Regions from separate parts of the Homo sapiens genome. Here all the other regions are linked to region 5. The links come from fine-mapping of genetic effects on gene expression. A gene starts in region 5. Each other region holds a variant in brackets. All regions are shown on one strand. Distances are from middle to middle.

Region 1 (5,920 bases), 720 kb before region 5:
GCTAAGCTTTTCTTGGGAGAAATATCAAGAGGGAGGCAAACCTGTAGTCATAAATGCTGTTCGGTGAGCATGAAGTGGAGCAGAGAGAATGGGCATGTACTAAGGAAGATGCTATTCGGGCCAGGATGGAATAGGCACTATGAATTCCACTCACTAGACCCTATTGTTTTTATATTTCATGTTGGCCAATGCCCATCTATACATGCATTCTTCCTGCTGTATTATTATTATTATTATTATTATTATTATTATTATTATTATTATTATTTGAGATGGAGTCTCACTCTGTCACCCAGGCTGGAGTGAAGTGGTCTGATCTTGGCTCACTGCAACCTCTGCCTCCCAGGTTCAAGCAATTCTCCTGCCTCAGCCTCCCGAGTAGCTGGGACTACAGGTGCCCACCACCACACCCAGTTGTGGGTTTTTTTGTAATTTTAGTAGAGATGGGGTTTCACCATGTTGGCCAGGCTGGTCTCAAAATCCTGACCTCAATGATCCTCCTGTGTCAGCCTCCCAAAGTGCTGGGATTACACGCTTGCACCACTGTGCCCAGCCTGTTTTATTAAAACCACTCATTGGACTACAGTCAATCACCTCACTTCTAGATTTTTGTCTCTGTAGCTTTCGTATATCCAGAGGTCATCCATTTTGAAGACTAGTGCCCTAGGAACTCTATTACTTGATGTCACTCAAAGATGTAATCCATGCTTCTCAAGCCATGCTGGGCTCACAAATTACCACATCTCATGAAAGTTCAGATTTTGATTCTGCAGTTTGAGGGTAGGGTTTGAGATTCTGCATTTCTGATAAGCTCCCAGATGCTGCTGGTGCTGCTGGTCCATGGACCACATTTTGAGTGGCAAGAGCCCAATATTCTTCCCTTGGGTTCCCGCAAACATGCTTAGAGAAAAGTTCCTTTATATTTCCCTAAAATCAAGCCTTAGTATTGCAAACTGTCTCATTGTTTGTCAAGCTATATTGTAGCTAGAGTAATTTAAATCTTCCCTGGGGAGAATGTTACTCCACGTTTACTTATAGATAAAGAACTTCTATGATTATCCAAGGGACATCCCTATAACACTGAGTATGTTAGACAGAAATGCTCTCTTTGAAAGTTACCCAGCTGTGCAGCTGGTGGGGATGGTATGATGAGGAGTGAATGGCCCACAATCGTGTAGACCCTGGAAAAAAAACTGGATTAAAGTGACTTTGCCTTATTCTGGCTCTGTAGGATACACATCAGAGTGAAGCCACCCGCAGTGTGACTCTGAATTGCTTTTCTATTTTTGCTCTTAGGGATTTGGGAGCTTCACTGGAATTTTGCTTCATCTAAACTGTGATGCTCTACACTAACCACTTTTCCTAAAATATATTTCCTCTCCTTTCAGCTCTGTCTGATCTGGAGCTTGTGGCCCAGTCAATTATCATCATTTTTGCTGCCTATGACACAACTAGCACCACTCTCCCCTTCATTATGTATGAACTGGCCACTCACCCTGATGTCCAGCAGAAACTGCAGGAGGAGATTGACGCAGTTTTACCCAATAAGGTAAGGGGATGATCCCCTGGAGAAGGAGGGAGAAGGTGAAGCCTCAGCAAGAATGCCTCCTCACCACTTGCCAGGACAATTTTTGCAAAAAGCGTAAGCATCAGTTCTTTCATTTACACTATGCAGAAAGGCTGTAAAGAGTAAAAACAAAGGGAGAATCGTAGGTAGTGGATGCTTCTTGCGTAAGTGTAAGATCTTTGTGAAACAGTGCTGGTCCTGCTGCATCCGTTGTCTGTTAGCAACATAACACCAAGTAAAAAATATCCAGAAATCTCAATGACAACTAAAAACAATCATTTATTGCTCACAAGTCTGGATAGTGAGCTCTGCTGATATTGGCTGGACTCGCTGTGGTCTGGCAGTGGTCTGATGGAACCTGGCCCTGGGTGCGCTGGGCAGGCTGACTCAGCTCTGCCTCACACCTCTCTCTGCTCCAGTCAAGTAGCTAGTGGTGAAGAAGCCAAGCTAGGACCCAGGGTGCCTGACGCCTGGGCCAAACATTTAACCTCTACAATATTACCTTCCAAATATAACACCAAATGCTAGCCACGTATTACCCACACTGTTTCCAGAATTCTGCCCAAATTGGAATTCTTTATGGTGTAACGAGATCTGGCCTTGGGGCTGGCCCTGGTTTGGCAGTGAGGTGAACACAAAGGAATGTTCATCTAAGTTCATAGTCCAGGCCTGAAGGAACAAGTGGGAAATTGTTCGAGAAAGACAGGATGGGGCTGCCCGGAGGGTTCCTATCCTGTTTACAACTCTCAGTAGCACTGAAATTGTGTGCCCTGTCCAGTTATAAAGTTCTTTTGTCATATTTGGGTTACAAAAGAACTAGTTTATCCCCAAACTATTTATAGGGTTTTTATATAACATAGTGTTACTCTCCACATTTTTTTTTTGCATGGAGTCTTGCTTCGTCGCCCAGGCTGG[A/T]CTGCAGTGGGGTGATCTCGGCTCACTGCTACCTCCGCCTCCAGGGTTCAAGTGATTCTCGTGCCTCAGCCACCTGAGTAGCTGGGATTACAGGCGTGCGCTACTATGCCCGGCTAATTTTTATAGTTTTAGTAGACACAGGGTTTCACCATGTTGGCCAGGCTGGTCTCAAACTCCTGACCTCAAGTGATCCACCCACCTTGGCCTCCCAAAGTGTTGGGATTATAGGCATGAGCCACCATGCCTGGCCTAAACAGGACTTTTCCATTTTAAATGCTTGTATGAAATAGAGGATTTGCTTTTTACATTTTCTTTTTCCTTGGTACAGATGCATAGCCTCTCTTTGGAAAGGTGACACTGGCTTTGGCATATTTTAGGTGATTCAAATGGCCATCGTCTATTAGTCATGTTTGTTCTCCCAAGAAAGAAAAAACACGAAATGGTAATGTCAAGGATTTCAGTCTCTGTGTAAGTGATTGTGCCAAATTCATAACTCCTCCACACATCTCAATGGGCCATCGAGCACATCACTGGGTATGGAGAATTATTAAAATAATTTATAAATGCAACAATCTTTTACCAGAATGAATTATTCTCTGGAGCTCCTAACACTTCAATAGTACTGCATGGACTAAGTTGAAAGTTAATTCCCAATCTCAATTTATCCAAATCTGTTTCTTTCTTCCCAGGCACCTGTCACCTACGATGCCCTGGTACAGATGGAGTACCTTGACATGGTGGTGAATGAAACGCTCAGATTATTCCCAGTTGTTAGTAGAGTTACGAGAGTCTGCAAGAAAGATATTGAAATCAATGGAGTGTTCATTCCCAAAGGGTTAGCAGTGATGGTTCCAATCTATGCTCTTCACCATGACCCAAAGTACTGGACAGAGCCTGAGAAGTTCTGCCCTGAAAGGTACAAGGCCCCTGGGAAAGGAGCCTTCCCTCAACCAGCCTGATTCAAGTATATTCTGCCTCTCTCGATGCACATGGCAATCATTTGAATATGTGCCTTTTCATTTTGGAAGTTTTTTATTACAAAATGATAACTGTTAAACTTTACAAACCATAGATTAAGAAACACCTTATAACAACCCTCATTAACTATGTAATGCCTGTCTTGTAGGCATTTTTCTATGCATAGACATTTTTAAAAACTAGTATACTATCACATTTTATTTGAGTTTGAACTGCTGCTTACTTCATTTCAAAGTAAACCATTACCTATCTACTATCTTACGTTACTACATATTTCTATATGCATAAGCTATAATTCATTTCACCATAATGTTATTTTGAGTATATAAGCTTGTTATTCATTTCAGTTTTTCTTTGCTGTGCCCTTTAGCTCTCTGAATTTAGCACCACGTTTAGGACATGTTTCCACATTCCTTTTTCTTTCAACATTGCTTGCTGTTTTCCGTAATGTAACTGTGAAAGTGCAGGCTGAGATCCTGAGACATCCTCATCCCTGATGGTTTAAGCCACTTCATTGAGGACAGAGGGAAGCAGAGGTTCTCCTGGTCCTGTTTGTGTCTGCAGTCCTGTGCCGGCTCCCTTGTACTCTCAGTTGTTGATGACTCTTCCAAAGCAAAGTCACCTGCTTTCTAGACTTCTCAGAAGTTCTTCCTTGGAAGTGTTGGGCATGATATTCTGGGAATTCAGAGCCAAGGTCAAGCTTTGGGCACAATTTGCACTCTGGAAATAGTTGATATTTTCCCATTTTGGAAAGGAAAATTTGGAATGAACTTTGTAGGGCACTGGCTGGTGAGGCCTGGGATCTAGACTTTTATTGGCCCCTAACTATAAACTTCCCAATGGCAGGGACCTTGTCTTGTTAGGCATGCTGTCTCTACTGCTGGCACAGACTCTGTACATAATACTTGTTGGAAGAGCAAGTCAGAATTGACCAATTTCTCTGTTTTCTGGAGTAGAGGACTTCTGTGTTTCCTCCATCTTGGCACTTCCACCTCCTGTGGCTGCACCAACACAAAATCAGAGACCACTCATTGTACTTCTCTTTGCATCATTCAGTCACCAAACAGATAGTAAGTGGTTACCGTGTGTCAGGAACTGGGCCAGGCAGTGAGAAATCCATATACTAAAAAAAGTCTGTTGTGAAGAATGTTTGACATACACATAACTATATTCTATAGACACCAGGCTATAGAACAGTATTAATGCATCCCCCTGTGTTCATCACCTGTCTCAGTAGTCAATGCTGCATGTCAGCTTCCCTGTCCACACACCACCACAATCCTCTCTGTGACTACAATGTTATCTTGAAGAAATAACCTGTAAATATTTCAGAATTTTCTCTAAAATATAAGTAGTCTTTTAAAAACACATAACCACAAGGGCATTATCACTTTCCTCCATCAAAATTTTTTCACAATATAATCAAATATTGAGGAATCAAATTTGAATAAACATGGGTTTAACCTTCAAAAATTGTATAGCCGGCCAGGTGTGGTGGCTAACACCTGTAATCCCAACACTTTGGGAGGCCAAGGAGGTCCTCGCCTCCCAAAAGCCACCACACCCTGCATAACGTGTAGTTTTAATAGTTTTTATGTTTCATTAACTAGTTTTTATGTACTACTGTGAAAGTAGGTTCAGTAAGAAGAACAAGGACAGCATAGATCTTTACAGATACATACCTTTTGGAGCTGGACCCCGAAACTGCATTGGCATGAGGTTTGCTCTCACAAACATAAAACTTGCTGTCATTAGAGCACTGCAGAACTTCTCCTTCAAACCTTGTAAAGAGACTCAGGTCAGTAAACTTTCTTATAAATAATGTTTATTGGGAGTTTTTTAAACTGAGAAGTCTACATTTTTTAAAAATTATTGTTCATTTTTCAATAATTTGCTCTGTAGGACAAAGAATCTAATTGGAGCTATCCATAATGCTTAAAGATGAATCACTTCTGGAGTTCAAAATCTGTGGCTTTGTAAAGACAGAACTATAAAGATCATCTAATGTCAATATAGATTAGCATGGTATAATTATGTTCAGTCTCTGTGAACTTGAGCAAATTTTAAATTCAGTTTCATGTCAACTGTAAAGATGAGGAAGTCTTTTGCACAATCATGAAGTGCAATGATTACTTTGTCAGGACTTTCGAATGGTGCTCTCCTCCACTAGAACTCACTAGAACTTGCAGAAGCTTTCTCATGACAGTGTTTCTCAACCACTAGCTGTACATTGGAATCACTGGGGAGCTTCAAAAATTCATGATGCCTGGATCATCTCACAAATTCTAAACTAATTTGCCCAGAGTTGTGGCTTTAAAAGCTCTCCCATTGGTCCTCATGTGAAGCCAATGTTGGGAATCACTAATTTAAGGCATTTCTGCCAGATAGAAAAGATACTTACAGTCCAAGGCCATCCTGACCATTTGACCTTATCTTCCAGGAGCACTGCTTCGCTGCTTC
Region 2 (5,920 bases), 33 kb before region 5:
GTACTCAAGTGATCCACCCACCTCGGCCTTTCAAAGTGCTGAGATTACAGGTGTGAGCCACCACATCCAGCCAATATGTATTTACTGATGAATAAATAGGAAGTGGTGGCTGGGCGCGGTGGCTCATGCCTGTAATCCCAGCAGTTTGGGTAGCTGAGGTGGGCAGATAACGAGGTCAAGAGATCGAGGCCATCCTGGCCAACATGGTGAAACCTCATCTCTATTAAAAGTACAAAAATTAGCTGGGCGTGGTGGCGCATGCCTATAGTCTCAGCTACTTGGGAGACTGAGGCAGGAGAATTGCTTGAACCCCGGAGGTGGAGGTTGCAGTGAGCTGAGATCGTGCCACTGCACTCCAGCCCGGCGACAGAGCGAGACTCCGTCTCAAAAAAAAAAAAAAAAAAAAAAAAAGGAAGTGGTATTTTTTGTATTTCCTGCTTTCTGCTCCCACTCCTCTGACACCTTCATTCTTTTAGGTTTGCCGGAAGATTTGGTTGGGTCTGTTTGATGCTCGGACATCTTTAGTACCAGATTCCAGGGATCCTCAGAAAGTGAAGGAGTTTCTCCAGGAAAAATATGAGAAGAAGAGATGGTAAGGAGTAGGAAAGAGGTTGCTATGGAAACGTGTTCAAGACATTCTTCATCTGACAGTCCAGTTTCTAGAGTTGAATTTGGCCTTCTCACAAAAGACTAGACTTGGGTCGATTCTGTTCCACTCACATTCAGTTACGGCTAAAATAAATCTACATGAAAGGACAACTTGTTCTCAGTCACTAACCCTGCAGATTTTATGTCCTCTCTTTTGGAGAGATAGTAGACTGATTGGAGTCGGGAGGTAGGCCTGTGGGTGTTCATTTTTATAGCTCAGCTGATCTTATGTATGGGGAGAGATGGCTGGAAGCACACATCCTATAGTTTTATTCCTTTAACCCATCATTTTATGATTTTTTTTTTTTTTTGAGACAAGGTCTCACTCTGTTGCCCAGGCTAGAGTGCAGTGCCACAGTCACAGCTTACTGCAGTCTCAGCTTCTTGGAGCTCAGGTGATCCTCCTACCTCATCCTCCCCAGTAACTGGGACTACAGGTGTGTGCCACCATGCCTGGCTAATTTATATATATATATATATATATATATATATATATATATTTCTTTTTTTTTTTTTTTTTGAGACAGAGTCTCGCTCTGTCACCCAGGCTGGAGTGCAGTGGCGTGATCTCGGCTCACTCCAAGTTCCACCTCCCAGGTTCACGCCATTCTCCTGTCTCAGCCTCCCGAGTAGGTGGGACTACAGGCGCCCGCCACCACACCCAGCTAATTTTTTGTATTTTTAGTAGAGACGGAGTTTCACCGTGTTAGCCAGGATGGTCTCGATCTCCTGACCTCGTGATCCGCCCACCTTGGCTCCCAAAGTGCTGGGATTACAGGCGTGAGCCACTGCGCCCGGCCTTAATTTTTATATTTTTTGTAGAAATGAGGTTTCACCACGTTGCCCAGGCTGGTCTGAAACTCCTGGGCTCAAATGATCTGCCTGCCTTGGCCTCGCAAAGTGCTGGGATTACAGGCGTGAGCCACCGTGCCCGGCCTTGTTTCATGATTTATATGTACAGTCAGCCCTCTGTATCTGTAGATTCTGCAACCATGGATCCAATCAACCTCACATCAAAAATATTTGGGAAAATAGGCCAGGCAAGGTGGCTCACGCCTATAATCCCAGCACTTTGGGAGGCTGAGGTGGGCAGACCACTTGAGGTCAGGAGTTCGAGACTAGCCTGGCCAACATGGTGAAACCCCGTCCCTACTAAAAATACAAAAAAAATTAGCTGGGTGTGGGGGTGGACACTTGTAATCCCAGCTACTCTGGAGGCTGAGGCAGGAAAATTGCTTGAACCCAGGAGGCGGAGGTTGCAGTGAGCTGAGATCATGCCACTGTACTCCAGCCTGGGCAAAGAGAGAGAGACTGTCTCAAAAAAAAAAAAAAAAAAAAAAAAAAGTAGGGAACACAAAAAATAACAATACAACAATAAAAAATAATACAAATAAGGCCAGGTGTGGTGGCTCATGCCTGTAATCCCAGCACTTTGGGAGACCGAGGCGGGTGGATCACAGGGTCAGGACTAGTTCAAGACTAGCCTGGCCAAGATGGTGAAACCCCGTCTCTACTAAAAATACAAAAAATTAGCCAGGCATGGTCATGGGCACCTGTAATCCGAGCTACTCAGGAGGCTGAGGCAGAGAACTGCTTGAACCCGGGAGGCAGTGGTTGCAGTCAGCTGAGATCGTGCCACTGTACTCTAGCCTGGGTGACAGAGTGAAACTCCGTCTCAAAAAAAAAATAATAATACAAATAAAAAGCAATACAATATAGCAACTATTGCATGGCATTTACATTGTATTAGGTATTATAAGTAACCTAGAGATGATTTAAAGTATATTGGAGGATATACATATTTGATGCAAATACTTCACCATATTATATAAGAGACTTGAGTGTCCCGTCCTCTGATTATGGAATTGTCAGGGGGATCCTGGAACCAGTTCCCTGAGGATACCATGGGACAACTATATTTTGTCTTCCTGATGAAGGAAACAGCATCTCCATTCTCCCTTACCTTTCCTCTCCCCTGGTATCACTTCTTGTGGGATCTCTGGGGTGTGTACATGTTGGGAGGTAACTGTGAGGTAGAGAAGAGAATGCAGAGAACAAAGAGATTGATGTGGATAAGACCACACTGTGGAGTCCCTCCTAGGGATGTCCTCAGGATTAAGCTGACACTTACAGAGTAGGGGCCACATACACTGTAGTGGAAGGGAATTGTCCCGGCAGGAGCTGGCAGGATGGAAGTGTGGATTGTGAGCACCTAGAGGATGAGGCGGCAGGCAGCTTTTCTATGGAGCTGAGAAGAAGGAGTCTGAAGAAACACCCAGGAAATAAAAGAGGGGGACCTTTGCCAGGTGTGGTGGCTCATGCCTGTAATCCCAGAACTTTGGAGGCTAAGGCAGGAGGATCACCTGAGGCCAAGAGGTTGAGACCACCCTGGGCAACATAGTGAGACCTCTTCTCTACAAATAATTAAAAAATTAGCCAGGCATGGTAGCATGTACTTGTTTGTGGTCCCAGCTACTTGGGAGGCTGAGGCAG[G/A]AGAATCACTTGAGCCTAGGTAGTTAAGGCTGTGTTGAGCCAACATTGCCCCACTGCACTCCACCCTGGGCAACAGCGAGACCCTGTCTCAAAAAAACCAAAAGATGTTCAAGGGGATGCTCAAGATAGGCAGAACTTTGCTAAGTTGCTCGGTTCCCTTCAAAAAAGGGAATCAGTAGAGAAAAATGAGCATAGATTTTGACTCCTGTGTCTTCCCAAACATCTCAGCTGAGCGTGGTCCAAAGTTTTATCCCTCTCTTTACAGCCTAACTATTCTTTCTCAAAGGTATGTCCCCCCAGACCAAGTCAAGGGGCCCACTTATACCAAAGGCAGTGCCTCCACCCCTGTGCAGGGCTCCATCCCAGAAGGGAAGCCCCTTCGGACACTTCTGGGTGATCCTGCACCGTCTCTCTCAGTTGCTGCCTCCACCTCGAGCCAGGTAACTCTCAGATCTGCTCGTCATGTTTCTTTTGAGATTTGGGAGACAGGAGTGTCAGTTTCCTGAATCAGATTCCCCGGACTTAGCAGACAACAGTGCAGGAGCTGTGAGTTGGGTCTCGGCTCTGCTGTTAACCTGTATCTTGTATTTGTCACTTCTGGACCTCATATCTTTTGGAAGTCAGAACCTAACAGGAAGTGGTATTTAGGAAAGTCAGAATATCAGCTCCAAACCTGAGCATTCCATCAAAGAAACACAGAAGGGGCTGGAATATGGTGTCCAATACCTGGGAAGGTTGAGGAGTAACAGCCCTGGGGGCAGTATTGGGCAGTATTCCTGTATATCTCAGGGTTACCTTGGCTCATGTGCTGTAAAATGTGTGGTTCTTGGAGCAGGTGTACTGAGAAGATGAGGATGATATGAGCTCTGAGAGGGGCTAAGGCAGCTCCTGCCCAGGAATCTTCTAGGTTGAGGGCAGTTACTCACTGTCTTCTCTCTCTACCTGCCTATCTGAGGGCAACCTGGGGAGCCAGAGGAGGGCCTGGGGCATGTCTGGGATTCTAAGGGCTGTATGCATTCCTTCTCCTCCAAGCCCGTCAGTCAGTCTCACGCTCGGACATCCCAGGCCCGGAGCACTCAGCCACCTCCCCACTCCTCTGTCAAAAAAGCCAGTACTGACCTGCTGGCTGACATCGGTGGAGACCCCTTTGCTGCACCCCAGATGGCACCAGCTTTTGCTGCATTCCCTGCCTTTGGGGGTAAGTGGGTTTTGGGATGGGACCCTCCCTACAGCGTATATGCTTACAACATGAGAGATCCAGTCCCTGGAGGTAACCATGGCTCTAGATCTTCTCATGCAAACAAATGTGAGGGTCACTCTGAAGCAGTGAGGCTGGGAGGACTGGGGTCAAATAAGTACAGCCAGGATTATGTTTGGGGGTTTGATCCTAAAACATTATAGTTGAGGGCTCCTAGCACTTCCTTTTAGAACACTGGAAATAGCCTTTTTTATTATTTTCTGTCTCTGTTAAAATGGGAGGAGGGGGATTATCATGTGTTCCAGTTCACCAAAGATTATTCTTCCCCCAAATCAGCAATAGCCAGTAGAGGGTTCAGCAGCATAGAATCTGTTTTCCCTTTTTAAAAATTTTCAAGCCAGACACAGTGGCTCACACCTGTAATCCTAGCATTTGAGAGGCTGAGGTGGGCAGATCACCTGAGGTCAGGAGTTCAAGACCAGTCTGGCCAACATGGTGAAACCTCATCTCTACTAAAAAGAAAAAAAAAATTAGCCAAGTGTGGTGGCATGTGCCTGTAGTCCCAGCTACTTGGGAGGCTAAGGCAGGAGAATTGCTTGAACCTAGGAGGTGGAGGTTGCAGTGAATCACAATTGCATCACTGGACTCCAGCCTAGGTGACAGAGTGAGACTCCGTCTCAAAAAAAAAAAAAAAAAAAAAAAAATTCAAGCTCCTTCCTCCATGAAAAAAAATTTTCATGCTCCAAACTAGGCCCTGACAAAAATGTTAATGCCTCATGGAGTAAGGACAGAAGAGGGCAGGGAGTGAACCTGGAGGCCCTGGGTGCCCCTGTTCCCCTGTGTGGGTCTGGCTCTTGGCCCCAGGCCCCACCCATTTCCCTCTGAAGAGAACCCTGTGGAAAGGCAGATGTCCCATAAGAGTGGCCTTTGGCCTTTAGAATTAGTAGCTATATTACATGGATAGGCATATACATTTTCTTTTCTTTTTCTGTTGTGTGTGTGTGGTTTTTTTTTTTTTTTTTTTTTTTTTTTTGAGTCAGAGTCTCATTCTGTCACCCAGGCTAGAGTAGAGTGGCACAATCTCGGCTCACTGCTAGCTCCACCTCCCAGGTTTAAGCAATTCTCATGCCTCAGCCTCCAAGGTAGCTGGGATTACAGGCATGTACCACCACGCCCAGCTAATTTTTATATTTTTAGTAGAGACAGATTTCACCATGTTGACCAGGCTGGTCTTGAACTTCTGACCTCAAGTGATCTGCCCACCTCGGCCTCCCAAAGTGCTGGAATTACAGGCGTGAGCTACCACACCCGACAATTTTCTATATAACCTTTATGTTTCTTCCACCTACAGGCCAGACACCTTCCCAAGGAGGCTTTGCCAACTTTGATGCCTTTAGCAGTGGCCCCAGCTCTTCTGTGTTTGGAAGCCTCCCTCCAGCTGGTCAAGCCTCGTTCCAGGCCCAGCCAACTCCTGCAGGTAAACTCTGCCCCACTGGCTTCCTTTCTCTTCCAACCGTGTCCATTTGTTCATGTCTATAAATCACCATTCATATCCTCACTATCCTAAAGAACTGCTCAAAG
Region 3 (5,920 bases), 64 kb after region 5:
CTGCAGAGAGAGGTGACTGGGGCTGTGGGCTCTCTCCCCCTTCCCCCCAGACCCCTGCAATCCTTCCCAGCCTCCCCCACGCCCCAGGATCCAGGGACTGCAGCCAGCACCCACCCCAGTCCTCGCCACACAGCCAAACCTTGACGTTCGAGGGATCAAACAGGCCCTCAGGGATGCGGAGTCGCTCGGCGCCGTAGTCTGTATTGTAGCCATTGGGCATCTCGTAGTGCACTGTGGGCATTTGTGCAGCCACCCTACCCAGAAGGGAGCAGGACTCTGCCTGGGGTGCTCAAGAAGGATCAGTGCGTGGGCAGCACCAGAGCCCCCCAGCCCACCCCAAGAGTGCCGGTTCTGCCCTCTCTCCCACCCCAAAGCCCTGAGCCACACTCACTGTTCATCGTAGGGGGAGTCTGAGACCTGCAGCACGGAGGCCTGGAAGTCCTGGATCACCTCCTGAAATCCCAGCGGAGGTGGTGAGGGCCTGCCTTCCCCGTGAGCAGCACCCCCTGCCCCGCTCCCCCTCCCTGCTCCCCCTCCCATGCGGGGCCTCTGTCCCGCCCCCGATTCATGGCAGGGGAGGGGGGTTTCAGGTGGCCCTCTCCAGAGGCTCACATTACACATGTAGTTATGCCAGGACTTGGAGACCTGGGGTAGCTTCTCCTTCTTCTTCCAGTTTGGGGGGGCACCCTCCCGGACAGGCTCCTGTGGGGGCACAGTGTAGGAACACCCTTTCCTAGCCCACCTGACCCCCACCCCCACCTTCCTGGCACTGTTCCCAGCTCTGCAGCTACCTGGCGCTGCAGGCTCTGCTGTGCTGCCTGCAAGAGGGGTTTCTCACCCTTCCCTGATGGAGAGGAGAGAGAATGGGGCATGCCTCTCTCTCCATGTGTGCCTTTCATGCGGTGGGTGCAGCTGATCTGGAGAACACCAGGAATACAGCAGTGACAGAACCTCAAGGGAATGGCCTCCTAGGGGGTCATGATCCATGTGAGGGCACGGAATGGAGCTAAGCACACAGTGTCACTTCATACTCACAGCACCCTGGCTACTGCCTACTGCCGTTCCACTTTACATAAGACAAACCTGAGGCCCAGGGAGCTTTGATATCATGCTGTTGGTCACACAGCTCTTTTTTTTTTTTTTTTTCAGATGGAGTCTCACTCGGTCGCCCAGGCTGGAGTGCAGTGGCGCGATCTCGGCTCACTGCAACCTCTGCCTCCGGGGTTCAGGTGATTCTCCAGTCTCAGCCTCCCAAGTAGCTGGGACTACAGGCATGCACCACCATGCTTGGCTAGTTCTTGCAGTTTTAGTAGAGACGTGGCTTCACCATGTTGCCCAGGCTGGTCTCGAAGTGAGCTCAAAGCGATCTGCCTGCCTCAGCCTCCCGAAGTGCTGGGATTACAGGTGTGAGCCACCATGCCTGACCGGTCCTGCAGCTCTTGCACGGCAGAGGCAGAACTTGAACCTGGGTCTATATTGGACCCTAGAACCCACCACACTGGCCCTCACACATCCTGCTGTCTGCCAGCTGGTTTCATGACCTCAGCATATCCCTCAGCCTGTCTGGATTTCGGATGCCTCGATTATAAAAGGAGGAACTGGAGCCAGGACCCACTGGGGAGCCTGCTGCTCTCTGCTCTGATATCTCATGTGTCAGAGGGTTGACGGCCATGGGGCGAGTGGCCAGGACTCTAGTGGCAGCTCCATGTCCCCAGAGGCCCCACCTTGGCTGCGATCATGTAAGGTGGGATGATGTCAATGGCCATCTCCTGGAACAGCTCCCGGCACTGCATGGAGATGAAGTCCCCTGCCAGAGGGGACTTGACGATGCCTAGAAGGAAGGCACTGTCAGGACCTGGTCCTCCTGGAGCACCCCCACCCCCTGCCGAAGCCCCACCTTGCTGCAGAACGTAGCCGTCATGTACTGGAATGGCCGTGGTGTGGGTGGCTCCACTGTCCAGCACGAGGCCAGTGGACCGCCCGTTTGCAAAGCTGGCATCGGATGGGTAAGTCAAAGAGACAGCAGCAGCAAGTGAGGGGCCTGGGCCCAGATCTTGTCTGGTCACTCTCTGCTCTACCGGGGTCCAGCCCATCCCCAGTCTGCAAATCTCTCCCCCTGGTGATGACTCATCTCCTGGAGAAAGGCTCTGAGACCCCAGTTACTTCTTTTTTTTTTTTTTTGAGATGGAGTCTTGCTGTCTCCCAGGCTGGAGTGCAGTGGCGCAATCTCAGCTCACTGCAAGCTCCGCCTCCCGGGTTCATGCCATTCTCCTGCCTCAGCCTCCCGAGTAGCTGGGACTACAGGTGCCTGCCACCACGCCCGGCCAATTTTTCGTATTTTTAGTAGAGATGGGATTTCACCGTGTTAGCCAGGATGGTCTCGATCTCCTGACCTCGTGATCTGCCCGCCTCGGCCTCCCAAAGTGCCGGGATTACAGGCATGAGCCACCACACCCGGCGACCCCAGTTACTTCTTTAGTTATTTTTTTTTTTTTGAAACTGAGTTTCGTTTTGTCGCCCAGGCTGGAATGCAATAGCTCACTGCAACCTCTGCCTCCTGGGTTCAAGAGATTCTCCTGCCTCAGCCTCCCAAGTAGCTGGGACTACAGGTGCCCACCACTATGCCTGGCTAATTTTTCCATTTTTAGTAGACACGGGCTTTTGCCATGTTGGCCGGACTGGTCTCTAACTCCTGACCTCAAGTGATCTGCCCGCCTTGGCCTCCCAAAATGCTGGGATTACAGGCGTGAGCCACCGCGCCTGGCCAGCCCCTTTATTTTTGGTTGTGTCCTACAGATTCCCTGAAATTAGGGTCGCTATCACCCCAGTGCATAGCACAGGGTTCAATGCAAGGCAGATCCTAAAAACAGTCAGTGTTGAAGGAGTTCTTGGGAAGGGACTGCCGCAGTGTTCTACACGTCTCCCTCCTCTGTCCAGTTCCAGCCCCTACTCTCTCCCGGGCCCAGCTCACTGTCTGCTCAGCCTGATCCGGGGAACCGAAAGGGGCCGCTGATCTGGCCACCCCAGAGTCGGAGGTGCTCAGTCCACTGGGCCTTCTGCACTAGTGGGGCAGAGGGAGGTGTCTGCCCATTGGGACACTGATCTTCAGAGAACCAGGCCTGACCCTCCAGCTCATCACAGCTGAGCTCAGCACAGGCCCCACCCCAGCCCTCCACCCAGTCAGAGCAGCTCAGTCCAGAGGATACGCGGTGAGCACAGCCGTCTTGCATAAGAAGAAGGCAGGAATGTTGTACTGCTCGAACATCAGCTCTGTCAGCTTCTCCCGCTTGGCCCGTGTGTTCCACTGTGGAGAAAGTGCAGAGGGGGAGGA[T/C]TCAGGAAGGGAGAGGCACAGACCCACATCCACGCACACGCAACCCACTCACTCACACATACACTCACGGTCACACACACACATCCAAACACTTGCACACACATACACAACCTAAACACTCACACATACACTCACGGTCATACACACATGCATTCACTTGCACACACACACACATACACTCAAACACACACACATACACTCACATTCACAGACACACATAAACACACACATGCATTCACACTATACATACACTCACGGTCACACATGCAAACACACTCACAAACACACGGTCAAACACATATATACTCACATTCACACACAAACTCACACACACACATACACATATATTCACACTCACAGTCACACACACATGCATTTAAAACATTTGCACAGGCCAGACAGGGTGGCTTACGCCTATAATCCCAGCACTTTGGGAGGCCGAGGCAGGAGGATTGCTTGAACCCAGGAGTTCGAAACTAGCCTGGACAACATAGTGAGATGCTGTCTCATTAAAAAAAAAATTTAAAGTAAGGAGCTTGTGGGAATTAAAACTACATGAACAGAAATGAAAAACTCAATAGAAGGATTGGAACATAAAGTGGAGGGAATATCTTGGAAACCAAAGGAAAAAGGTAAAGAGATGGAAAATATAAGAGAAAAGGGAATTAAATTAGGGGACCAATTCAGGGGGCAACAAAATCCAATAACAGAAAATCCCAAGAGAGAAAATGGAGAGAAATAAATAATTAAATAAATAATTCTTTTTCACTGAATTGAAAGACATATGTTTTCAGAATGAAGAGACATACTAAGTGCCTAGAGCCATGAATGAAAATACACCACACTGAGGATAAAGTAAAAATTCTATAAACTTTCAGAAAGAAAAACATTACATCAGAGGATCAGAAATCAGATGGTTTCATCCTTCTAAATGGCAACGATATATGCTGGAAGAAGGACAATGGAAAAGTGCCTTCAAGATTCTGAAGAATAATGATTTCTAACCTGGCATGGGATACCTAGCTAAGCTATCAACTCAAGGTGAGACACACAAAAGTCTCAAAAAATATACTTCCCATGACCTTATTTTAAATTTTTTTTTTAGATGCTGGGCGCGGTGGCTCATGCCTGTAATCCCAGCGCTTTGGGAGGCCAAGGCGGGCAGATCACCTGAGGTCAGGAGTTTGAGACCAGCCTGGCCAACATGGTGAAACCCCGTCTCTACTAAAAATACAAAAATTAGCCAGGTGTGATGGGAGGTGCCTGTAATCCCAGCTACTTGGGATGCTGAGGCAGGAGAATCCTTGAACCCGGGAAGCGGAGGTTGCAGTGAGCCAAGATCACGCCATTGCACTCCAGCCTGGGGGACAAGAGTGACACTTCATCTCAAAAAAAAAAAAAAGTTTTTTTTTAGATTATTATTTAATTAATTATTTTTTTAAATGGAGTCTCACTCTGTCGCCCAGGCTGGAGTTCAGTGGCATGATCTAGGCTGACTGCAATCTCTGCCTCCTGGGTACAAGCAATTCTCTTGCCTCAGCCTTCCGAGTAGCTGGTACTACAAGCATGCACCACCATGGCCAGCTAATTTTTATATTTTTGGTAGAGATAAGGTATCAGTATATTGCCCAGGCTGGTCTCAAACTCCTGGACTCAAGGCCTCCCAAAGTGCTGGGATTACAGGAGTGAGCCACTGTCTCTGGCCTCTCATGACCTTTCTAAGGCAGTTACTGAAGGACCTGCTCCATGAAAACAAAGGAATAAGTCAAGAAAAGGAGTCAAGTACAGGAAACAGGACTTCTAACCAGGACAGAGGCAAAAGGATTCTACAAGATGATGGTGAAGGAAGATGCCAGCATGACAGGTCTGTCCCCTGGCAGAGGGCTACTAGTGCAAACTGGACCAGGTCAGTGGGCTCCTGAAGAAATTTCTTCAAGAAATGAAATTGATGAGAGGCCAGGTGTGGTGGCTCACGCCTGTAATCCCAGCACTTTGGGAGGCCGAGGCCGGCGGATCGCGAGGTCAGGAGATGGAGACCATCCTGGCTAACACGGTGAAACCCCGCCTCTACTAAAAATACAAAAAATTAGCCGGGCGTGGTGGTGGGTGCCTATAGTCCCAGCTACTTGGGAGGCCGAGGCAGGAGAATGGTGTGAGTCCCAGCTACTTGGGAGGCTGAGGCAGGAGAAATGGAGCTTTCAGTGAGCCGAGATCGCACCACTGCACTCCAGCCTGGGCAACAGAGTGAGACTCCATCTCAAAAAAAAAAAAAAAAATACAAAAAATTAGTCGGATGTGGTGGTGGGCACCTGTAGTCCCAGCTACTCGGGAGGCTGAGGCAGGAGAACCCAGGAGGTGGAGCTTGCAGTGAGCCGAGATCGCGCCATGGCACTCCAGCCTGGGCAACAGAGCAAGACTATGTCTCAAAAAAAAAAAAAAAAAGAAATTGATAAAATATCTAATGGAATTGACGTCTTGACAAAAGATACAATTGATGAATGATTTAGGGTTCACACTGTTAAGTAGATAGAAAACCAGACCAAATATAATCAAACACAGGGCTGGGATGGTGGCTTACGCCTGTAATCC
Region 4 (5,920 bases), 280 kb before region 5:
CCAGACCACGGACAGGTGTGGAGAAGCTGCTGGGCTAAAACTTGGGCTGAACTTCCGCTGCAGGTCGACTTATTCCCATCAGCACCAAAGCCACTGGAGGGGGTCATCCACTAGCAAATGAAGTGGGGGCACGGATTGGAGGCTGTTTCAGAAGGTCCCACTGAGCCACGGACTCAAGGCCTGGCCACAGCCCTCCCAAGCAAGGCCCAGATCATATTTCACCACGCTCAGAAAACCTTGTCAGCTCATTTCAGTCCACGGTGACTTTGCTTTCTTTAGGATCTCTCTTGCACTGTCCAACTCAGAGAATTTCAAATCTGAATGGATTCCAATGATGGAGCTAAATCAGGCCTCACCTCAGTTTTTTAATTACAATCAATAGGGCTGGGTCCCAGCATCTGTGTCTTAATGTTCCTCCATGTGATCCTCATGCTGAAAGGCTGGTATTTGAAAATCCCTTTTTTTGGGGAGTGAAGGGTTTTTTTTAGAGACAGGCCTCACTCTGATGCCCAGCCTGGAATGCAGTGGTAGATCACAGCTCACTGCAGCCTCGAACTCCTGGCCGCAAGAAATCCTCCCACCTTAGCCAACCAAAGTGTTGGGATTGCAGGAGTGACCACTGTGTCCAGCCAGGAAAGCCCTTCTGTTTCACTTGAATGATATTTCTGCCGCAGACCTACAGCCATTGTTGTATTAAACGGCATCATTGCAGGAAAAGAAAAGGTGAGAGGTGACTGTTTTGCTTTTTTCTGAACATATCAGACCAAACCTGGGCTGTCTGGCACTTTTTTTTTTTTTTTGAGTCGGAGTCTCACTCTGTCGCCCAGGCTGGAGTGTAGTGTCGTGATCTCGGCTCACTGGAACCTCCACCATCCCGGTTCAAGTGATTCTCCTGCCTCAGCCCCGCAAGTAGCTGGAATTACAGAAGTGCACTCCCACACCCAGCTCATTGTTTCTGTATTTTTACAGAAAAACAGACAGGTTTCACCATGTTGGCCAGGCTGATCTCAACCTCCTCACCTCTGGTTATCTGTCGGCATCGGCTTCCAAAAGTGCTGGGATTACAAGTGTGAGCCACCGCGCCTGGTTTGCCCATTTTTTGACAATGTATCAACATCATCTAAGATGGGCACTGCCTCAGTGTAGTGTGTCTAGACAAGGTGGCCGGAACAGAGAGGAATATGCATACCAGGCTTAAAGACGGGTTAAATCAGAGCTTTTCATTCCACAAAAGAGCAATTTTAATGAGGTCAGAACATGGATGTTCTAATATTTGAAAGCCTGTTAACTAGGAGAGAGAGAGAGTAAAGTGATTTGTTGTAGGAGGACACACCCAGCTCTGACGGTTTAAAGCGTCATGAATGCAAATTTGAACTCCAGAAAAGCAGAGCTTCCTAACAATGGGACTTCCACAGCAATGGGATTTCCTTCCACATTCAGTTTGTGCCTTTCCCATGAGCGAGAGACTCCTAGGAGAGCCGCAGCCCGTTAGGAAGCCATGTGGGAACTCATCCACAGGTTCTTTTTGTTTGTTTTTTTTTTTTTTTTGAGATGTAGTTTTGCTCTTGTTGCCCAGGCTGGAGTGCAATGGTGCGACCTTGGCTCACTGCAACCTCCGCCTCCCAAGTTTAAGCCATTCTGCTGCCCCCGCCTCCTGAGTGGCTGGGATTACAGGCACCCACCACCATGCCTGACTAATTTTTTGTATTTTTAGAAGAGATGGGGTTTCACCATGTTGGCCAGGCTGCTCTTAAACTCCTGACCTCAAGCGATCCACCTGCTATGGCCTCCCAAAGCGCTGGGATTACAGGCGTGAGCCACTGTGCCTGGCCGGAACCCACAGGTTCTTTGGATGGTCTCTGAATGTCATGAAACTCTTTTATATTTAATTAAAAAAATTTTTTTGACACAAGGTCTTGCTGTGTTGCCCAGACTGGAGTGCGGTGTCACGATCACAGCTCACTGCAGCCCCTAACTCCTAGGCTCAAGCAATCCTCCTGCCACCTCAGTCTCTCAAGTTGTTGGAACACAGGTGCCAGCCACGACACCTGGCTAATTTTGTTCTGTTTTGTTTTGTTTTGTTTGAGATGGGGTCTTGCTATGTTGCCTACACTGGTCTTGAACTGCTGGCCTCAGGCAGTCTTCCTCCCTTGGCCACCCAAAGAGATGGGATTGCAAGCATGAGCCACTGTGCACAGCTGAGATTTTTCGACTTAGTCTTTTTGTACACCCAGTATCTTATAGAATATCCATAATATAGATTCATAAATAAACCATTTCCTTCAATAGTATAAATAAATAAACCACTGCTATAAATGGTGGAATTTCTGAGTTAAGAGCAATACATATGATACAAAACTTGATATATAGAGTTTCTTAGCCAAACTGGAGGGGCTGGCTTTAGGTGATCCGTGGACTCCCTGAAACTGGGGACACCATTGGAAATATGTGTGAGCTCATGGGCAGTTTCCGATGATTTCCAGTCCTCAAAATATCTCTTGGACTCAAAGATGCCTTAGGGCAGAGGACACGTTACACCCAGTACAGAATCTCGGACAGTGAATATCAGTAAACATTCGGCAGAAAAGCTCTGCCAAATTGAGTGCTCTGATGTGACTTTTTCATCAAGTCAATGTTCCTGGGATCTCTTGTACATGATACTCTCACTCTTATAAGGTTTCATCGTTTCTGCTTACCCTAGTTTTCTTTCCCATCCTGATCCCTCTCCCACCAGACTGGACTCTGAAACGGGCATGTACAGAGAAGAGGAGACCCCAACACGCTTCAAGCTTTGAGTGGAGAGGACACAGCCTCTGCTGGGACAGGGAACAGAGGGATGCGGAGACCCTGAAGATGCTTTTGGACAGTGGTCTGAGGTTGGGACAGTGGCAGGAGATACCATTCACCCAGGATCTCCAGGACAAGAGATCAGCCTGGCAGTTACATGTGTTTTTGTTCAAACTGGTTGCCAGGTTGGAATGACCTATGACATCAGAGATTCCGACCTTCCTGATTGGAAGGACCGGACTCTGTCGGCGCCTGGCAGTTCAGGTGAACAACAGTAACTTCTCAGAGCTGTTCTCCACTCCTGACTTCTCCCAGCCTCGAGAATTGATAACACACTCTTCTGGATCCCAGCAGTGTCCAGAAGAAGACCAAG[G/A]ACAGAACAGAGACTAGCTTCGGTGAGATTGGACAGATTTTGGGAAAGATCATGACGAGCCATCAACCGCAGCCCCAGGAAGAGCAGAGCCCCCAGCGGAGCACCTCAGGGTACCCCCTCCAGGAGGTGGTGGATGATGAAGTGTCGGGACCATCAGGTGAGGGGACTGGAGGAAGAAGAGGTGGCATAGGATTGACTAAGACGAAGGAAGGGGGCCAGGTGCGGTAGCTCACCCCTGTAACACCAACACTTTGGGAGGCCGAGGCGGGCAGATCACCTGAGGTCAGCAGTTCAAGACCAGCCTGGCCAACATGGTGAAACCCCATCTCTACTAAAAGTACAAAAATTAGCCAGGCGGTAGTGGTGTGTGCCTATAATCCCAGCTACTCGGGAGGCTGAGACAGGAGAATCGCTTGAGCCTGGGAGGAAGAGGGTGCAGTGAGCCGAGATCGTGCTACTGCACTCCAGTCTGGGTGAGAGAGTGAGACGCTGTCTCAAAAAAAAAAAAAAAAAAAGAAGAAGAAAAAAAAGAAGGGTCAGAGGTCAGGAAGGAGAACCTGGGGAGGGTGTGTGGGAAGAATGGAGAAATTCAGGCTGGGTGCAGTGGCTCACACCTGTAATCCCAGCACTTTGGGAAGCCAAGGCAGGCGGATCACGTGAGGCCAAGAGTTTGAGACCAGCCTGGCCAACATGGCGAAACCCCGTCTCTACTAAAAGTACAAAATTGAGCTGGGCATTATGGCAGGCACCTGTAATCCCAGCTACCTGAGAGGCTGAGGCAGGAGAATAACTGGAATCCGGGAGATGGATGTTGCAGTGAGCTGAGATTGTACCACTACACTCCAGCCTGGGTGACAAAGCAAGATTCTGTCTCGAAACAAAAAAAAAAAAAGAGGGCCTCAGAGAGCCAGGGACCAGGGAACGATATGACGCAGTGTTCTGAGGACAGAGAGAGGGAAGAATGGGGAGGGGAAGGAGTGGCACATGGGGTTGAGCAGAGGAGAAAGTCAGAAAGGTGGCTTGGAGAAGCCAGCAGTCTGAGAGGCTGGGGAGGATGGAGAATGGTTTGGGGTTTGGGGTCGGGGTCTAACGTGATCAGTTGCAGAAGCATTACACGGTGGCCTGGTTTCTTTACTCAGCCCCTGGGGTAGATCCCAGCCCCCCACGTAGGTCCCTTGGCTGCAAAAGGAAGAGGGAGTGTTTGGATGAATCTGATGATGAGCCAGAGAAGGAGCTCGCCCCTGAGCCTGAGGAGACCTGGGTGGCGGAGACGCTGTGTGGCCTCAAGATGAAGGCGAAGCGACGGCGAGTGTCGCTCGTGCTCCCTGAGTACTACGAGGCCTTCAACAGGCTGCTTGGTAGGAGGACACCCCAGAGAGCACCTCCAATCCTGTTCTTTCTAAAAAGAGGAAACTTCCAATAACCACACTTTTCCAATGGGAAAAATATGCCCCAGTGGGTGAGCTCTCCATGCGGGAGGACTCTGAAGTGATCACTCATGAGGGACACTTAGGAGACAACAGAGGATTAGGTAGACTTGATAAAGGTCGGTGCTTGGGATAAGAAAGCTTGGTTTTGGGCCAGGCGCTGTGGCTCCCGCCTGAGATCCCAGCACGTTGGGAGGCTGAGGCAAGAGGATTGCTTGAACTCAGGACTTCGAGGCTGCAGTGAGCTATGACTGCACCACTGCACTCCAGCCTGAGTGACAGAGCAAAACTCTGCGTCAAAAGAAAAACCAAGGCTGGGCACAGTAGCTCATGCCTGTAGTTCCAGCTACTCGGGAGGCTGAGACAGGAGAATCGCTTGAGCCTGGGAGGAAGAGGGTGCAGTGAGCCGAGATCGTGCTACTGCACTCCAGTCTGGGTGAGAGAGTGAGACGCTGTCTCAAAAAAAAAAAAAAAAAAGAAGAAAAAAAAGAAGGGTCAGAGGTCAGGAAGGAGAACCTGGGGAGGGTGTGTGGGAAGAATGGAGAAATTCAGGCTGGGTGCAGTGGCTCACACCTGTAATCCCAGCACTTTGGGAAGCCAAGGCAGGTGGATCACGTGAGGCCAGGAGTTTGAGACCAGCCTGGCCAACATGGTGAAACCCCCGTCTCTACTAAAAGTACAAAATTGAGCTGGGCATTATGGCAGGCACCTGTAATCCCAGCTACCTGAGAGGCTGAGGCAGGAGAATAACTGGAATCCGGGAGATAGATGTTGCAGTCAGCTGAGATTGCACCACTACACTCCAGCCTGGGTGACAAAGCAAGATTCTGTCTCGAAACAGAAAAAAAAAAGAGGGCCTCAGAGAGCCAGGGACCAGGGAACGATATGACGCAGTGTTCTGAGGACAGAGAGAGGGAAGAATGGGGAGGGGAAGGAGTGGCACATGGGGTTGAGCAGAGGAGAAAGTCAGAAAGGTGGCTTGGAGAAGCCAGCAGTCTGAGAGGCTGGGGAGGATGGAGAGTGGTTTGGGGTTTGGGGTCGGGGTCTAACGTGATCAGTTGCAGAAGCATTACACGGTGGCCTGGTTTCTTTACTCAGCCCCTGGGGTAGATCCCAGCCCCCCACGTAGGTCCCTTGGCTGCAAAAGGAAGAGGGAGTGTTTGGATGAATCTGATGATGAGCCAGAGAAGGAGCTCGCCCCTGAGCCTGAGGAGACCTGGGTGGCGGAGACGCTGTGTGGCCTCAAGATGAAGGCGAAGCGACGGCGAGTGTCGCTCGTGCTCCCTGAGTACTACGAGGCCTTCAACAGGCTGCTTGGTAGGAGGACACCCCA
Region 5 (5,920 bases):
TACTCCAGTGTGTTTTCAACACGGGAAAAACCACAGGTCACTCTATCTTGGTTCTAGAGATAAAGTCCCCGACACCGGACGAGTTTTTCGCCAGCCCCAAGGACCAGCAAGCCAGGTCCAAAGAATCATAAAGTTACTGATTCCCAAGGGCTGGGAGGGAAGGGCAAGAAGACCTGGTTGGAGATGGGAGCTGGAGTTCCCAGGTCCCTCCCATCTGGGCTTCTCTGGCCCAGGGCAGGCATCCTTCCTACCCTCTGCTAGCCCTAGCAGCCCGGCTCTGCTTCCTCTCTTACTGACACAGACTTCAAGAGATCAGCAACTGTGTGAGCATCTCAGGCACGGCGAGGGTGGAGAGTGTGGGAGGGCCTGGGGTCTACAATCGCCCTCTTATCTGGAGCACTGCCTTGCTATGCGGAGGCTGGCAGCCTTGGGATTCCCTGTAGCACGGACCCACTAACGGCTTAGACCTGGAGAAGCCTGCCTTTCTGTTTCCTCGGCCCAGCCTGTCCTGGGAGGGGCCCAGGGCCCGCGAGGCGGAGTCCCAGGCCACAGACCTGGTGAGCTTCTCCAAGGGCCCTTCTCAGGGAAGGGCAGGCCAGCAAAAGCAAGCAGAGGAGAGAAGCCGGGTATATCCCCCAAGGAAATGAGTCTTGTGACAGGAAATGAAGTAGAAACAATCTGTCAGGTTCTGGCTCTGGTAGGCCCCGTGTTTACCAGGGTGGATGACAGCCTGATGCCCCGGGACCCCTTTCTCTTCCTCTCTGCCCAGCCCTGGTGCACAGACAGAAGCCCTGGCCTCAGAGATGACCGTTCTGGAGAGGGTGGGGGGATGGCATTTGCCCCTCCCAGCCTCGCCTCCACCTGCCCGCTTTCTCTGCAAATGTGTTTGTGTGTGTGCATGTGGACGAAGGGGGTGGAGACCGAGTTCTCAGAGTTCTGATGGGGTAGGCGGTGGCGGGGACAAAAGCTAGGAGCGGAAGGGAGCTCAGGCAGGAGGCAGGGCACTGGGGGCACAGGATGTGGTCTGGGAGAGAATGAGCTGCACTTCTCCTTTGCAAGATGGCCCCTCCCCGCCACCTCAGGATTCTTCCTACTATCACCCCAGGGAGCCTAGTCCAAGGGAGATCAGGGACCCAAGACTAGGCGACACGCAGCGAAGACACTCAGAAAGAGATGGGAGACGGGAGGGGAAGGCTCAAGGCAGTCCGGGCAGCAAGGCACTGATGCTTTTCGTCTGCTTGGAGGGCGAGGAGAGATGGAGGGCAGGGTATGGGCAACTGTATGTTTTTGTCACTTCCCCTTTCTGTCCCTGCTTGCGGAGAGGGGACAGAGGAGAGAATTCTGGACAAGAGGGACCCCACTTGGCCTAGAACCTGGGCCCTGTGTAGAGAGTGGGGCAGAGGAGGGTTCTTGGGAAGCTGGGATTTCCGACCCCCCCCCAAGCTCACAGGAGCACGGCTGCACCCTGAGCCGGAATGCTGGGGGAGGAGGGGGCCGGGGGCGGGAGCTGGGAGGGGCCGGGGAGCTCCGGGTAGTTTTCCCCAAGAGTCCACACAGGGAGAGACAGCCTAAGGAAGTAAAGAATAACATTTGGTCTTTGTCAAAAAACAACCAAGGGGGAGGGGAAGGGAACAGACAGTGAGTGTCACACAGCTGCTGAGGTCAATCTGGAGTGTGGGGTTAGGTGGGGGTGGGAGGGAACAGGGCTGTAAGGGGCAGGAATGGCTCCTGGAGCTCACTCATTCCCCATCTCAAGTGTTGCAGAGCAGGCGAGATCAGTGGGGAGGTTTCGACTGGTTCTCCCCAGAAGAGGGAAGAGGATGTGTGCCAGTGCCGGCCTGAGTGTTCCCAGGTGAGCAGGCACCTGCTTAGGGAGAAGTAAGCACTATCCTCCAGCTCTGGTCCCCCACCGTGCAGATGAGAGGAGGAAGAGGCCTGGGCTGGGGTGAGGCTTCGGGAATGCAGTCCTCCTCCCTGATCCTGATCCCCACCCCCAGCTGCCGGCCCAAGGTCATAGGCTGCCTCCTGAGTAGCTGAGGCTTGACTCACCTGTCACAGTTAAGTCCCCCACCCCCTACCATCCACAGACACCAGGGTGGAGGGTGCATGGTTGGACAGATCCTGCGGGTGGAGGCGTGGAAGGACAGTCTCTAGCTGGCCAGCACTCCCAGCTAGGAGATAAGATTTCCTTCCCTCCAGCAACGGCCTCAAGTCCCTCCCCCGGGGGAAAGCAGAAACTGAAATGGGAATTCTAAGATCCCTATGAGGTCACAGGCTCCACAGTGACCTCACAGGCTTAGGAAGGAGGAGGAGGAATCTCAGATAAGCCGGTTGGGGATAATAGGCGGAAGAGCTCAGGGAGAAAAGAGTGAGGGGAGGTAGAGATTTGTTTCTTTCCCATAGGCTGGAGAGCTGCGTGGACAGTGGAGAGGGCCAGGACCTTAGGGGGCGGGGTTGCGGCACAGAAAGCAGAAACCTCGGGCTTAGGGGCCAGTCACTGGGAAGGGGGTGCCCGGGGCTGCTCGGATCTCGGTGGGACGGGGGTTAAGAGGTGTAGATGAAGAGGGAGAGAAAGCAGTTATTAGAGGAGCTCGTGGGGACTGCTTCATAGACCGATTGGAGCTGAGGTTAAGAGATCATGTAAATAAGCCAACCAGGTGAGGGGCGGGACCATCCTACAGGTGCGCAGATATGCAAATAAAGAGAAAGGAGGAATCTCTCCCAACGCTCGGAGGCGCAGGGCGTTCTGTGCAAACGAGAAGCACGTTCATTGTCTAGGGGGTTCTCAAAGATGGGAGAGGATGGCTGCAGGTTTAGGGCAATCAGGAGGGGCAGCAACCCTGGCCGCCAGGTGAAGGGGCGGGCCCGACTCCCGGGCCGGGCGGGGCCCGGGGTGGGGCTATGCAAATGAGGGACCCGGTTGGGCCCGGGGCCCGGCTGCACTCACCAGCCTGGGTGATGTCTGACAGGTCGTAGCTACGGGCCGCGCCCCGGGGGAAGTGCTTCAAGCGCCGGTTAGACAGGTTCAGGGTCCCGGTGGCCACGGCCTCCTCTAGGGCCCGCTCTGCACTGCGTCTCCCCGGCAGACCTGGAGACCCGGGCACGGAGGTCGTGGCTGCCGCCTCCTCACCCCCGGCGGCGAGTGGAGCCGCTACGGCCGCCGCCATCCGCTCCCGGCGGCTCCCGCTGCCTGACTGACGGGACCGGCCGTCCCTCCTTCCCCCACCCCCTCCTTGGAGCCGCCGTAGTTGCCTCAAGGGGGAGGGAGCGGTGTCCGGGACCGGACGGACCAATCGTGGCCCCGAGACGCGTCAGAAGCGGCCAATCAGAACCCGTCAGTGGGGGTGGAGCTCCGGCGCCGGAGTCTGACGAGAGAAGGGAGGGGAACAAGGATAGAGCGCTCGCCAACGGCCGACGCTCCAGGCCGTCCCGCCCAGCGCAGCTGCACCCAATCACAATGCTCAGATCGGGAGGTGGAGCCAATCAGGTCCAACCAAGAGGAGGGGACACCGGCACTCCACTAGCAGGAAAACGGGCCGAGGGACCGCAAGCAGGGGGTGCCTAGTCCTCGTCCCCCAAAGACCAATCGTAAGCCAGATACAGGCGAGTGACTGTCAAGAAGGCCAATTAGAGCCTCCGAAGGGAATCTGGACCTGCCTCTTCTCTGAGGGACGGCTCTACCTACCAATAGCATGGGCGAGAAGGCGGTCCCTTTGCTAAGGAGGAGGCGGGTGAGCTAGAACTTTAAGACTGAGGTTAAGAATGAACGCGGAGCCCCTGGCCGGCCGGGAACGCAGTTCGCCGCTGCAGTGGCGAGTGCGAGCTGGACGTGTTAGGGGGCTAGCCGGCGTCCAGGGCTTGAGGGGATTCGGGCGACTGCTTGAGGCCAGTGCACTGGCGGTTGTCGCAGCTGAAGGGGCAGCGGGGGGACCTCCGACTGTGAAGCCTCTGGCAGGGGTCTCGGGACCCCCGGGCTGGGGGCGGGCGGGGGGCTTCCCAGAGCCTGGAGATGCCCAGCTCGAGGAGGGAGGGTGTAGGTGCAGCGTTGCACGGTCTGCCGTCTCACCCGAGGAGCTCCCCTGGACAGGAATGGAGAGGGGACCAGACCACGGGGTTTTAGAGGCTTAGAAAGGATCTCACCGCCTAGAACACGCCCTTGGTGCTACGAATGCAGAAACTGAGGCAGAGGGAAGTTGATGCGTTAGCAAGAGCGAACAGCAAGTTCCTGACAGCTGGCTTGCTCTAGAAACCAGGTCTCTGGATCCTCCACGCACAGCCCTTTCCCGCTCCCTCAGTTTTCACAGTGGATGTTTTCACTCCCTTCCTCTCTTCCTCCCTCCCTCCCTCTCCCTTCCGTTCCCTTCCTCTTTTTATTTTTTTATTTTTTGAGATGGAGTCTCGCTCAGTCGCCCAGGCTGGAGTGCAGTGGCGCGATCTCGGCTCACAGCAACCTCCACTGTCCGGGTTCAAGCAATTCTCCTGCCTCAGCCTCCCGAGTAGCTGGGACTACAGGCGCCCGCCACCACACCCGGCTAATTTTTTGTATTTTAGTAGAGACGGGGTTTCACCGTGTTGCCCAGGCTGGTCGCAAACTCAGGAGCTCAGGCAATATGCCCTCCTCGGCCTCCCAAAGTGCTGGCATTACAGGCGTGAGCCACCGCGCCCGGCCTTTTTTTTTTTTTTTTTAAGAAGGTCTGATTCTGTCGCCCAGGCTGGAGTGCAGTGGTGCAGTCATGGCTCACTGCAGCCTTGAATGCCTGGGCTCAAGTGATCCTCCTGCCTCAGCCTCCCAAGTAGCTGGGACCACGGGCGGCACCACTGCACCTGGCTAATTTATTTTCAATTTTTGTAGAGATGGGGTTTTGCTATGTTGCCCAGGCTGGTCTCAAACTTTTGACCTCAAGCGATCCTGCCTCTGCCTCCCAAAGTACTGGGATCACAGGCGTGAGCCACCGCACCCGGCCCACAGTGGACTTTTTCTTTCTTTTGAGACAGAGTCGCTCTGTTGCCCAGGCTGGAGTGCAGTGGCTTGATCGCAGCTCACTGCAGCCTCAACCTCCCACCTCAGCCTCCCGAGTAACTGGGACTACAAGCACGCACCACCATGCCAGCTAATTGTATTTTTTGTAGAGACAGGGTCCTACTATGTTGCCCAGGCTGATCTCAAACTCCTGGGCTCAAGCAATGCTCCCACCTCGGCCTCCCGAAGTGCTGGGATTATAAGCGTGAGCCACAAAGCCTGGCCCACAGTGGACTTTTTCTATTCACAACCTCTCGTTTGCCTCCTGGGGTGAAATGGAGTGGATAAAGGGGACCCAAATGCAAGAGGAATGGAAAATACCTTTCTGTCTACTTGGAGATCTTCCTTTCTAAGTGGCATGAGTCCCTAATGCAGTCCCCTCCCTATGTGGTAGGTTGCCCAGAAATAAGTCACTGAAGTTGCTTTCTCCTTAGTTCACATCTCAGAGGTTGATATTCCTGAGTAGTTGCTGAAGAATTAAAATTCCATCTCAGGCATCCCAGCCTAGCCATGGCTAGGCACCATACATAAGGGAATTTGGGTGGTCAGTCTGGTGCAGTCAATGAACGGATCTGTGACACTGTGTGGTGAGGGCTGGTGGTCTGGCAGGATGGGACTCCTTTGAGCCCCTGCAAGAGCCAGCCACTCCTTGGATTTATTGGTGTAGATCTGGCCTGAGTGGGACAGACACAACCCTGACCCCTGCTGTTTCTCCTGATAAATGTCACCCCACATAAGACAAAGCTAATATCAGAGACCCTGGGAGAAATCCTAAGCTTTCAGAGGAAATCCATCCCTTTCTCCCACCTTAATAGGTTGTCCTTTATACATGCAATGATGTTACTGTCCCTCAGGAAAGCAAAAGCAGTCTTCTTTTTTGTTTGTTTTTTTTGAAACTGG

The links.
Region 1: its variant is fine-mapped to the expression of LRCH4 in whole blood (TOPMed, PIP above 0.99).
Region 2: its variant is fine-mapped to the expression of LRCH4 in whole blood (TOPMed, PIP 0.94).
Region 3: its variant is fine-mapped to the expression of LRCH4 in whole blood (TOPMed, PIP above 0.99).
Region 4: its variant is fine-mapped to the expression of LRCH4 in whole blood (TOPMed, PIP above 0.99). The same link has a PIP of 0.9 or more in monocytes.

What each region holds. Positions count from the first base shown.
Region 1 is chr7:99,858,442-99,864,361 of GRCh38, forward strand. CYP3A43 (cytochrome P450 family 3 subfamily A member 43) reads left to right here. Exons shown (of 13, transcript NM_057095.3): 10 at 1,389-1,549; 11 at 3,172-3,398; 12 at 5,096-5,258. Among named protein-coding and RNA genes, the nearest start is that of OR2AE1, 16 kb to the right of the region's middle. RefSeq lists a silencer at 1,831-2,031. The variant A/T (reference allele first, on the strand shown) is at 2,483.
Region 2 is chr7:100,549,920-100,555,839 of GRCh38, forward strand. It overlaps AGFG2 (ArfGAP with FG repeats 2), which reads left to right. Exons shown (of 12, transcript NM_006076.5): 3 at 477-592; 4 at 3,428-3,581; 5 at 4,174-4,339; 6 at 5,691-5,816. Among named protein-coding and RNA genes, the nearest start is that of AGFG2, 14 kb to the left of the region's middle. The variant G/A (reference allele first, on the strand shown) is at 3,142.
Region 3 is chr7:100,646,832-100,652,751 of GRCh38, forward strand. ACTL6B (actin like 6B) reads right to left here. Exons shown (of 14, transcript NM_016188.5): 5 at 3,207-3,304; 6 at 1,898-1,992; 7 at 1,725-1,831; 8 at 613-702; 9 at 392-453; 10 at 140-254. Among named protein-coding and RNA genes, the nearest start is that of ACTL6B, 6.7 kb to the right of the region's middle. RefSeq lists enhancers at 2,492-3,038, 3,039-3,583. The variant T/C (reference allele first, on the strand shown) is at 3,332.
Region 4 is chr7:100,304,675-100,310,594 of GRCh38, forward strand. SPDYE3 (speedy/RINGO cell cycle regulator family member E3) reads left to right here and starts at 3,028. Exons shown (of 11, transcript NM_001004351.5): 1 at 3,028-3,317; 2 at 4,300-4,518; 3 at 5,686-5,904. The coding sequence starts at 3,212. The variant G/A (reference allele first, on the strand shown) is at 3,161.
Region 5 is chr7:100,582,934-100,588,853 of GRCh38, forward strand. It overlaps LRCH4 (leucine rich repeats and calponin homology domain containing 4), which reads right to left and starts at 3,196. Exons shown (of 18, transcript NM_002319.5): 1 at 2,948-3,196. The coding sequence starts at 3,167. FBXO24 (F-box protein 24) reads left to right here and starts at 3,395. Exons shown (of 10, transcript NM_033506.3): 1 at 3,395-3,731. The coding sequence starts at 3,693. RefSeq lists enhancers at 671-1,359, 813-1,107, 1,080-1,239, 1,505-2,018, 2,019-2,532 and silencers at 2,674-2,723, 2,764-3,193, 3,954-4,073.